Homo sapiens: one gene and its partners. The protein of the gene in region 3 purifies or fractionates together with the protein of the main gene of each other region. This does not show direct contact. Each region holds a gene or a part of one and is shown on either strand. Other genes may lie near its edges.

What was found.
Region 1: the proteins of ZSCAN32 (region 3) and ZSCAN18 purify together in Homo sapiens (affinity purification with mass spectrometry; 3 studies listed by BioGRID and IntAct, with this or other methods). This does not show direct contact.
Region 2: the proteins of ZSCAN32 (region 3) and PGBD1 purify together in Homo sapiens (affinity purification with mass spectrometry; 3 studies listed by BioGRID and IntAct, with this or other methods). This does not show direct contact.

What each region holds. Positions count from the first base shown.
Region 1 is NC_000019.10:58,085,751-58,088,344, reverse strand, and holds part of ZSCAN18 (zinc finger and SCAN domain-containing protein 18), read left to right. Parts: intron 1-940; coding exon 941-1,029; intron 1,030-1,336; coding exon 1,337-1,439; intron 1,440-2,078; coding exon 2,079-2,171; intron 2,172-2,594. UniProt on the Homo sapiens protein: May be involved in transcriptional regulation.
Region 2 is NC_000006.12:28,284,446-28,288,101, forward strand, and holds part of PGBD1 (piggyBac transposable element-derived protein 1), read left to right. Parts: intron 1-1,105; coding exon 1,106-1,262; intron 1,263-2,634; coding exon 2,635-2,723; intron 2,724-3,656.
Region 3 is NC_000016.10:3,383,928-3,387,583, reverse strand, and holds part of ZSCAN32 (zinc finger and SCAN domain-containing protein 32), read left to right. Parts: intron 1-2,642; coding exon 2,643-3,125; intron 3,126-3,656.

The DNA of each region.
Region 1 (2,594 bases), on a different chromosome or scaffold from region 3:
ATAATCAGGGCCTGGGGTCGGGCTCTGTGTGTGTGGTGTGCTGTGTCTGAGTGCTTGCTGTTCGAGGGGTGGGTCCCCCAGGCTGTGGTTGGGTCTGGTTCTTTAGTTGCCCAGCATCGCGTGCTCAGCCCATCCCCATCCTAGAGGTGGGCTCTCTGCCCCTTGGAGTGAAGCTGCCCTGACACCTCCTGACTTGTGTGCCCATATGTGAGGCTCTGGGCACTGTGGGTGGACTCCTCAGGACCACTGGGCAAGTGGTGTGTGAGTTCGACATTTCACATAAAATAGAAACTTCCATGTGGTTTTCCAGAAGTTTTGTGGCTGTTCATTACCAGCACGGAAGGTGCCCACTGGCCTGGATACAGCCCAGCACTATGTGGTGTTGCTTTTTAGGATTTCCACGAAGGCCAGGCACAGTGCCTCATGCCTGTAATCGCAGCACTTTGGGAAGCCAAGGCGGGCAGATCACTTGAGCCCGGGCATTCGAGACCAGCCTGGGCAACATAGGGAGACCCCATCTCTACAAAAAATACAAAAATTAGCCGGGTCCGCACTTTTAGTCCCAGCTACTTGGGAGGCTGAGGTGGGAGGATTGCTTGAGTCCAGGAGGTGGAGGTTGCAGTGAGCCAAGATCATGCCACTGCACTCCAGCCTAGGTGACAGAGCAAGACCCTGTCTTTAAAAAACAAACAAACCAAAAAAAAAAAAGATTTCCATGAATCCAGTGGACTTGAATGGGCATCTCTGGGGCCACCCAAGCCCTGTGGCCACCGCGCTGCTTTGTAAATCAGGGAAAGGTGTAGTGTCCGTTGAGCCTTGGGTGCTGCTGTCACAGAAGCACACTGGGGCCTGTGTGGGAGGCAGCGGGGGCTCCTTGACCCTTGAGGGCACCTGGCCACAGGGAGCTCATTGCCTCAGCTCTGCCTCTCCTTCTCCCCAGCCTGGCTTTCTCCGGACCCCCTGTTTCTGGAACAGAGGAGGGTCAGAGAAGCAAAGACCGAAGAGGACGGCCCTGCCAACACCGAGCAGGTGGGTGGGCACGAGCAGGTGGGTGAGGGGCCTTGGCCTCAGCTTAGAGGCATCCCCCTCCCCATCACCAGTGCTCAGCAGAGGGCTGTGGCCCCAAACGTCCACAGCGCTGAGGCCCAGAACCCACCCTGGTGGGAGCGTGAGGGCGGAATCTTTGTGGTGCGAAGGGGGCTGCCTCCTGCAGTGCACCTGGGTTAGAGTCCCTGGCCAGGGCTGGCTCCTAGCCTGCTCCTGTGGCTGTGGGGCTGCGGCGGGTCCTCCCTTCTCTAGGGCAGGTGGGAGGTCTCAGCCACGACTAATGTTTCAGAAGCTGAAGTCCTTTCCAGAGGACCCTCAGCACCTGGGGGAGTGGGGCCACCTGGACCCTGCCGAGGAGAACCTGAAGAGCTACCGGAAGCTGCTCCTGTGGGGTGAGAGTCGCCTGCCTCGGGGTCACGCCCCACTCCCCATCCCCTTCCGCAGGGGTTGGTGCAGGAGACTGTGACCCCAGGGACTTTGGCTGGGACACTGTGATGTCTTACAGGATTTGAACTTGCACGTGTTGGAGCTTGAATTTATTCGCTGAAGCCCCCACCCTTTCTGATCTAAACATCTGAGTTCTGCCCAGGCCCTGCCTGTAGGACTGAAGCCTCGGAATTTGGAAAGGCCTCCTGGCCCCAAGGCGCCCACATTGCCACCCTCCTTGCCAGATACAGGGCCTCACCTGCATGGCCTGATCAAGGGTCTCCTCTTTTGTAGACGTTCTTGCCCCAGAAACCCTCCTTTTAGGGAGGCCCCCCGACTCAGACTCCTGAGCAATTTTTGTCAATGTCTTTCTTTAGCTTTGCTTTCTCTGAGTCCTGCCTCCGCCTGCCCCGTTGCCCTTCCAGCCTCGCCTTCTTCTTTGCTCCACTGTCCAGGGGCCTAACAGGGAGGTGGCCTTGGTGGGGGTCCCAGTACAGAGAAGAGGAGGTGGGCTGCAGCCTGCCCTGGCTGGCCCACGACACACAACACCCATCAGCCACTCTGTGTTGATGCCTTTTATTTCTTTGGTTTTTAACCCCACTCAGGGTATCAGCTTTCCCAGCCTGACGCTGCCTCCAGGCTGGACACTGAGGAACTCCGGTTGGTGGAAAGAGATCCACAAGGAAGCAGCCTCCCAGGTGAGGTTGGGTTGAATTGGTGTTAGGGCCGGGTGGGGTTTGCTTTTTCTTCAGAGGCTGAGGGGGCCCCTCCCAGCGCCATCAGCCCCAGCAAAGACCTCAGCATTGACTGCTTCACCATTCTCCCACCACCGTGTCTGAGTGAGGCAGGAATCCAGTTACGTCCATGGTCTCTTGCTGCATGACAGACCACCCCAAGACTTGGTCGGTGGAAACGGCAGTGGTGTTAGTTGCCAGGATCTGTGTATGACTGGTCCCGGGGGTGGCCGTTCTGCCCCATTGGAGGCTCTGTGCCAGCACACCAACAAGAACACCTAGAGGCGGACTTGGGCTGGAGGGCCCTGGGTGCCTGTCGCCAGGGGGCTTGTCGCTGGGGGGTTTGGCCTTAGCTATTGACCCCACTCTCTTCGCTGGCAGCCGGGC
Region 2 (3,656 bases), on a different chromosome or scaffold from region 3:
ATATGTATACACACACATACATACACATATGCAGTATTTTTTTTTCCTGAATCTATTTGAGAGTCAGTTGCAAACACTATATCCCTTTACCTCACTGTTGACCAGGCTGGAGTGCAGTGGTACGATCATAGCATCATTGCAGCCTTGAACTGCAATGGTGGAAGGCTCAAGCAATCCTCCCACCTCAGGCTCCTGAGTAGATGGGACTACAGGTGCATGCCACCATGCCTGGCTAATTTATTTTTAATTTTTTGTAGCGGGGGTGGGGTCTCACTATATTGCCCAGGCTGATCTTGAACTCCTGGCCTCAAGTGATCATGCTGCCTTGGCCTCCCAAAGTGTTGGGATTACAGGCATGAGCCACTGCACCTGGCTATTCGGTGTGTATTTCTGAAGAGTGAGGATATTCTCTTGTATCACAAGAATACAAAAATCAAGTTTAGGGAAATTAAACTTACGATACTATCATATAACCTTAGTCCTTATTCATATTTTGCCATGTTATCCTAATAATGTTCTTTATGATAATTTTCCTGTGATTCAGGATACAAGCCAGCATCACATATTGCACTTAGTTGCCATATCTCTAGTCTGTGAATCTGGAGTAGCTGCTGTCTTTGTCATGACGTTGTTATTTTTGAAGAGTACAGCTAGTTTTTTTGGAGACTATCCCTCAATTTGAGTTTGTCCTATATTTTCTCATGATTCAGGCTGCACATTTTGGCTAGAATACCACAGAGGTAATGTTGTGTTCTCAGTGCGTTACTTCAGGAGGTGCGTAGTGATGATTTGTCCCATTACTGATGAGGTTATGGTGGTACCTGTCAATTTTCTCCACTAGAAAGTTACCATTTTCCCCTTTGTAATTACTAAGTAATCTGTGGGAGACATTTTGAGGTGGTGTACATATCCTGTTCCTCATTAAATTTTCACCAGCTAGTTTAAACATCCACTTGTTTGTTGTTTTTGTTTTTCTGGGCTGGGATCCTTTGCCTGTCTTTTCTGCCTTGTTTGCTGCTGTATCCCCAGCATGTAGAACAGTGCCAGGCTCTTAGCATGCAGTCCATATATGCATGCCCTTTCAAAATAAATCTTTTGTTTCCAGGCCTCTGTCTATATTCAGGGACAGGACATGCACCCAATGGTGGCAGAATATCAAGGAGTCTCTTTGGAGTGTCAGAGCCTCCAGCTCCTGCCTGGGATAACCACCCTGAAGTGTGAACCTCCACAGCGTCCTCAAGGGAACCCCCAAGAAGTGAGTGGTGAGTGCTCGAGTGAGTTTAGTGAGGACGCTGGGAGCTGGCCACTGACACTTGCACAGCCTTCTTGACCTCAAGTTTGTATACATTGTGAAATGATTACCACAAGCTAACTTACATATCTCACAGTTACCTTTTATGTGTCTGTGGTAAGAATTCCTAAGATCTACTCTCATGAAATTTCAAGTATACAATATATTATTATTACTAACTATAGTCAGCATTCTGTACGTAGGTCTTCAGAGCTTATTCATCTTATAACTGCAAGTTTATACCCTGTGACCAACATCAAGTTTTATTTTTTTGTCTAACCCTGTATCTGAACAAACTTGTAAAGACCTGCTTTATTTTACACTGTGCATTTTAAGCTGGTTTATTTAGTATGTATGTGTTGTGGACAAGTACATATAATAGTAAAAGTGAATCGGGGCAAGGCTGTTTTTTTCCAGCAAACTTTATTCCTTCTAGAAATGCAACAACAGCAATAAAAACATTCCATAGTGATCCATTATGGAAGCAAAGAAAAGCAGAGCAAAGAAAAGTGATGTTCTGTTTTATATTTTTGGGTTAGAATTACCACATGTGCTCTTCATTTGATAATTTTGTACTCTGCCATCTGCCAACTGCCAACTTTGTGACCTAGGCAAGTCATTTAATAGGTTATTCAGTTAATCAACAATTATCTGTTTGATCTCTGTGTGTACTCTGCACTCAGCTGTGATTCTTCTGAATGTGCCTAGGATTTTGGAGGCAATAATTTGGACCTTCTTGATTATTTTGAGGATTGGAAATAATCTTTTAAAGTAACAGCACAGTGGCTGGCCTTGTGCAGTCATCATCACCATTTTGATTATTGTTGGTTCTTTGGGATCAGTACCTCCTAACAGTTTTTCTAGTTCATGGCTAACATCTCTTCTCTATTTTTTTAAATATCTTTATTTTCCTGTCTCTCTCTCCATCTTCCTTTCTTCTGCTTTCCTGTTTCCCCTCAGTCTCATCTCTCTACTCTCTACATCCTTTCTTTTGCCTCTGTGTTCTCTCCTTGATCCTTCCTTTATCACCAGCTTCTTCCTCCCCTTTATTTTTGTCTATGATTTTTATTTTTTCTTTATGTGAAAGTGCATGACTGTAAAGCACCTTATGAGTTCATAAATCCCACTCCATTTTTTGGGTGAGAGACCCTAAAGTTGTAGAATTTTAGAATTTCTGACAGAATGAAAGCAGTTGTGATGCTCTTTCTCACACTGTAAAATCTACGTCTTAGTTCTTGAATGTTTAACAAACATAACATTTGGGGGAAAAGGCTGGGTCTCCAAAAAGGGTACCCTAAAGGCCATCATGTCTCATTTAGGACTCTTGCCCTCTCTCTCTGCAGGGCCTGTTCCCCACGGATCAGCTCATCTCCAGGAAAAAAACCCCAGAGACAAGGCTGTAGTGCCTGTGTTTAACCCAGTCAGGTCCCAGGTAAGTAGGATGCCCAAGCTTGTAGGAATATCAGTAGTGGTCTTTCTCCCTCATTCCATGTTCCTTGCCCTTCTCTTGGCTCACACTCATCATCGTGAGAGCCATTCAGGTGGCATAGTCCCTCTGCCTTCACCTTGTCACAGAATATCACAAAGTGTGTTGCATCATTCGAGGAGCTTGTATTGATTATATGCCATTGCCTCATTTCATTGTTCAGGAGGCACGTCCAAATCTCAAGGCATGGGAGTGAGGGGTGGAGTGAGGCTCCTGGTTTCAGAAAGTGCTCCACTCATTTGATGTTGAGTAACTGATATTTTCTCCTTTGAAGTCTCTGGTTTATCTCCCCAGCTTTAGAATAAGGGCCCTTTCTCACACTACTTTATATTCAGCATGTATGCAATTAATGCTTGGTGATAATAATGGAAATTCTATATATCTAAGGTAATACTTAACATCTTCTTCACAAAATGGACTCTGGTTTTTTTTCTTATTAGTGGTTCATTCATTTTCCTAGTCATTTATTTACAAAAAAAAAATAACTCTCTCATTTAAGTCCTCTTGCATACTGCTGCCACATCAGTTTCCTCAAGACACTTGCTCAGTCCTCTTCTATGGCTTCTAATTAATTTTTAATTCTATCAGACCCAGTGCCTCCTGTTATTAACAAATACTTCCTGATAAGAAGTATCTAGAAAATAAAACCTACTCATGCACATTCTGAAAATCAACATAATTCCCTTAAATGTAATTTAATGGTATAATGTAGAAACAAAAAAGTTATTTATTTTAAAAGTAGTGTTTCAAAATGCAAGTGCTTGATGTGATTATAACTAGGGAAATAACAACGTAGTCAGGTGTTTGCACTGAAATATAATTAGTAAGTTCAAATTAAGGAGGAATAAGAAGACCAGAAGCCCAAGAAAATCAAAGAGC
Region 3 (3,656 bases):
ACCAGATGTTGGAATGCACTTGCTGGGACAGCTCTAGTCAAATCGGTCCTCATGAACTGGCCCAGATGGGCAGCAGGTGTGTGTGGTGAGGGTTATTTAGTAGCCAGCCATCCTGAACTGCTCTTCTCAGATGTTTACTACTTATTCTTACCTTGGTGTGTTAACTGCTGTCATTTAGTTTCCTGTATCTACAAGGATGACAGGAGATATAAACAGATAGAGATGGGCTGGCTGAGGAGGTATTCCTGTATCAGGGAGGGAACAGGCAGATATATCGTTACAACCAGCTCCTCTGTCCCCTGAATCTTTGCTTTCCTTGAGTATCACCTGTTCACTGTGTCCTCTTATGTGGCCACCCTCAGGAAGTCCCACAACTGTCAAGGCAGGCAAGCCACTACCCTTATTGCCAGCCACCTCTCCAGGAGGAATGAGTAGGATTGAGGATAATTAACGAGAAATTAAATAGGCAGCTTTAGTAAATAACCCTATAAGTCATTATCAGTGGAGGGAATGTCTTTTGTATTATACTAAAAGTTTTCATGTTTTAGACAAAAAGCCACAGTGAGATTTCTTCCTAGAAATAACAATAGCCAGTTGTGGCACGGTTTGAGAAACCAGGATGTAACTTTTTTTTTTTTTTTTTTTATACTTTAAGCTTTAAGGTACATGTGCACAAAGTGCAGGTTAGTTACATATGTATACATGTGCCATGTTGGTGTGCTGCACCCATGAACTCGTCATTTAACATTAGGTATATCTCCAAATGCTATCCCTCCCCTCTCTCCCCACCCCACAACAGGCCTCCGTGTGTGATGTTCCCCTACCTGTGTCCATGTGTTCTCACTGTTCAGTTACAACCTATGAGTGACAACATGTGGTATTTGGTTTTTTGTCCTCGCAATAGTTTGCTGAGAATGATGGTTTCCAGCTTCATCCATGTCCCTACAAAGGACATGAACTCATCATTTTTTATGGTTGCATAGTATTCCATGGTGTATACATGCCACATTTTCTTAATCCAGTCTATCATTGTTGGACATTTGGCTTGGTTCCAAGTCTTTGCTGTTGTGAATAGTGCCGCAATAAACATACGTGTGCATGTGTCTTTATAGCAGCATGATTTATAATCCTTTGGGTATACACCTAGTAATGGGATTGCTGGGTCAAATGGTATTTCTGGTTCTAGATCCCTGAGGAATCGCGACACTGACTTCCACAATGGTTGAACTAGTTTACAGTCCCACCAACAGTGTAAAAGTGTTCCTATTTCTCCACATCCTCTCCAGCACCTGTTGTTTCCTGACTTTTTAATGATTGCCATTCTAACTGGTGTGAGATGGTATCTCATTGTAGTTTTGATTTGCATTTCTCTGATGGCCAGTGATGATGAGCATTTTTTCATGTGTCTTTTGGCTGCATAAATGTCTTCTTTTGAGAAGTGTCTGTTCATATCCTTTGCCCACTTTTTGATGGGGTTGTTTTTTTCTTGTAAATTTGTTAGAGTTCATTGTAGATTCTGGATATTAGCCCTTTGTCAGATGAGTAGATTGCAAAAATTTTCTCCCATTCTGTAGGTTGCCTGTTCACTCTGATGGTAGTTTCTTTTGCTGTGCAGAAGCTCTTTGGTTTAATTAGATCCCATTTGTCAATTTTGGCTTTGGTTGCCATTGCTTTTGGTGTTTTAGACATGAAGTCCTTGCCCATGCCTATGTCCTGAATGGTAATGCCTAGGTTTTCTTCTAGGGTTTTTATGGTTTTAGGTCTAACGTTTAAGTCTTTAATCCTTCTTGAATTAATTTTTGTATAAGGTGTAAGGAAGGGATCCAGTTTCAGCTTTCTACATATGGCTAGCCAGGTTTCCCAGCACCATTTATTAAATAGGGAATCCTTTCCCCATTGCTTGTTTTTGTCAGGTTTGTCAAAGATCAGATGGTTGTAGATATGCGGCATTATTTCTGAGGGCTCTGTGCTGTTCCATTGGTCTATTTCTCTGTTTTTGTACCAGTACCATGCTGTTTTGGTTACTGTAGCCTTGTAGTATAGTTTGAAGTCAGGTAGCGTGATGCCTCCAGCTTTGTTCTTTTGGCTTAGGATTGACTTGGCAATGCGGGCTCTTTTTTGGTTCCATATAAACTTTAAAGTAGTTTTTTCCAATTCTGTGAAGAAAGTCATTGGTAGCTTGATGGGGATGGCATTGAATCTATAAATTACCTTGAGCAGTATGGCCATTTTCACGATATTGATTTTTCCTACCCATGAGCATGGCATTCTCTCTCTGTCATCAGGCTGGAGTGCAGTGGCACAATCTCAGCTCACTGCAACCTCTGCCTCCTGGGTTCAAGTGATTCTTCTTCCTCAGCCTCCTGAGTAGCTGGGACTACAGGCACACGGCACCACACCCAGCTATTTTTTGTTGTATTTTTAGTAGAGACGGGGTTTCACCATGTTGGCCAGGATGGTCTCGATCTCTTGACCTCATGATCTGCCCGCCTTGGCCTCCCAAAGTGCTGGGATTACAGGTGTGAGCCACCGCATCCAGCCTAGGATGTAACTTTTTAAGCTGCCAAAACTGCACACTGCAGTATGTACAGTCCTCCATGATCTAACTGACAGATCTAATTGACCTATTCTTTGTCCCCCAGCAACAGGTGTGCCCTGGGGCTATGAAGAGACCAAGACGCTCCTGGCTATTCTTAGTAGTTCTCAATTTTATGGAAAACTCCAGACCTGTCAGCAGAACAGCCAGATCTACAGGGCCATGGCGGAAGGACTCTGGGAGCAGGGTTTTCTGCGGACCCCAGAACAGTGTCGCACCAAGTTCAAAAGCCTACAGTTGAGTTACCGCAAAGTGAGGAGAGGCCGTGTGCCTGAGCCTTGTATCTTTTATGAGGAAATGAATGCTCTTTCAGGCTCCTGGGCCTCTGCACCTCCTATGGCAAGCGATGCTGTTCCTGGCCAAGAAGGAAGTGATATTGAGGCTGGAGAGCTGAATCACCAGAATGGGGAACCCACGGAGGTAGAAGATGGCACTGTGGATGGTGCAGACAGGGATGAAAAGGACTTCAGGAATCCTGGCCAGGAAGTCAGGAAACTAGACCTGCCAGTGCTGTTCCCAAACAGACTTGGTAAGACTCCCTTGGCTCTGATGGTCAAAGGATGGCAAAGTCCACTTTAGAGGCCATTAGCCTAGCAGTTGAGTAGGAGCTGTCACTGATCCTGGCATCATCATCATCTTGATGTGTGACCCTATCCAAGTTTTGGTTTTCATGGAGTTAAAGGTTATTCCCCTTGCATTTTACAGCCCTGATTTTGCATTTGCCAACCTCTTTCAACTAAGTTCATGTCATCTTTTCCCATGGAGTTTCACTATGCATTGTCAGACTGCTGGTTAGGCCTCCAGACCAGGTCCATCTTCTCCCTTTTTCTCTAGCATGGCCTTGCCTTTCACAGCCTGAGCCTATGCTGGCTGGGTACTTAGCACCTTGCTTTCTTCCTGTTTGAGCTGGCCAAGCCCAGGGTTGCCTTTTGTTATTCTGCTGCTAGAAGTTAGAACATTCAAGAATTGAGGGTACACCTATAAACAGACTGGCAGATGATATAGTGCTTAATGTCTTGCCTCAGTTTGTCATTGTGTCAGAACATCCGAAAAAAGATAG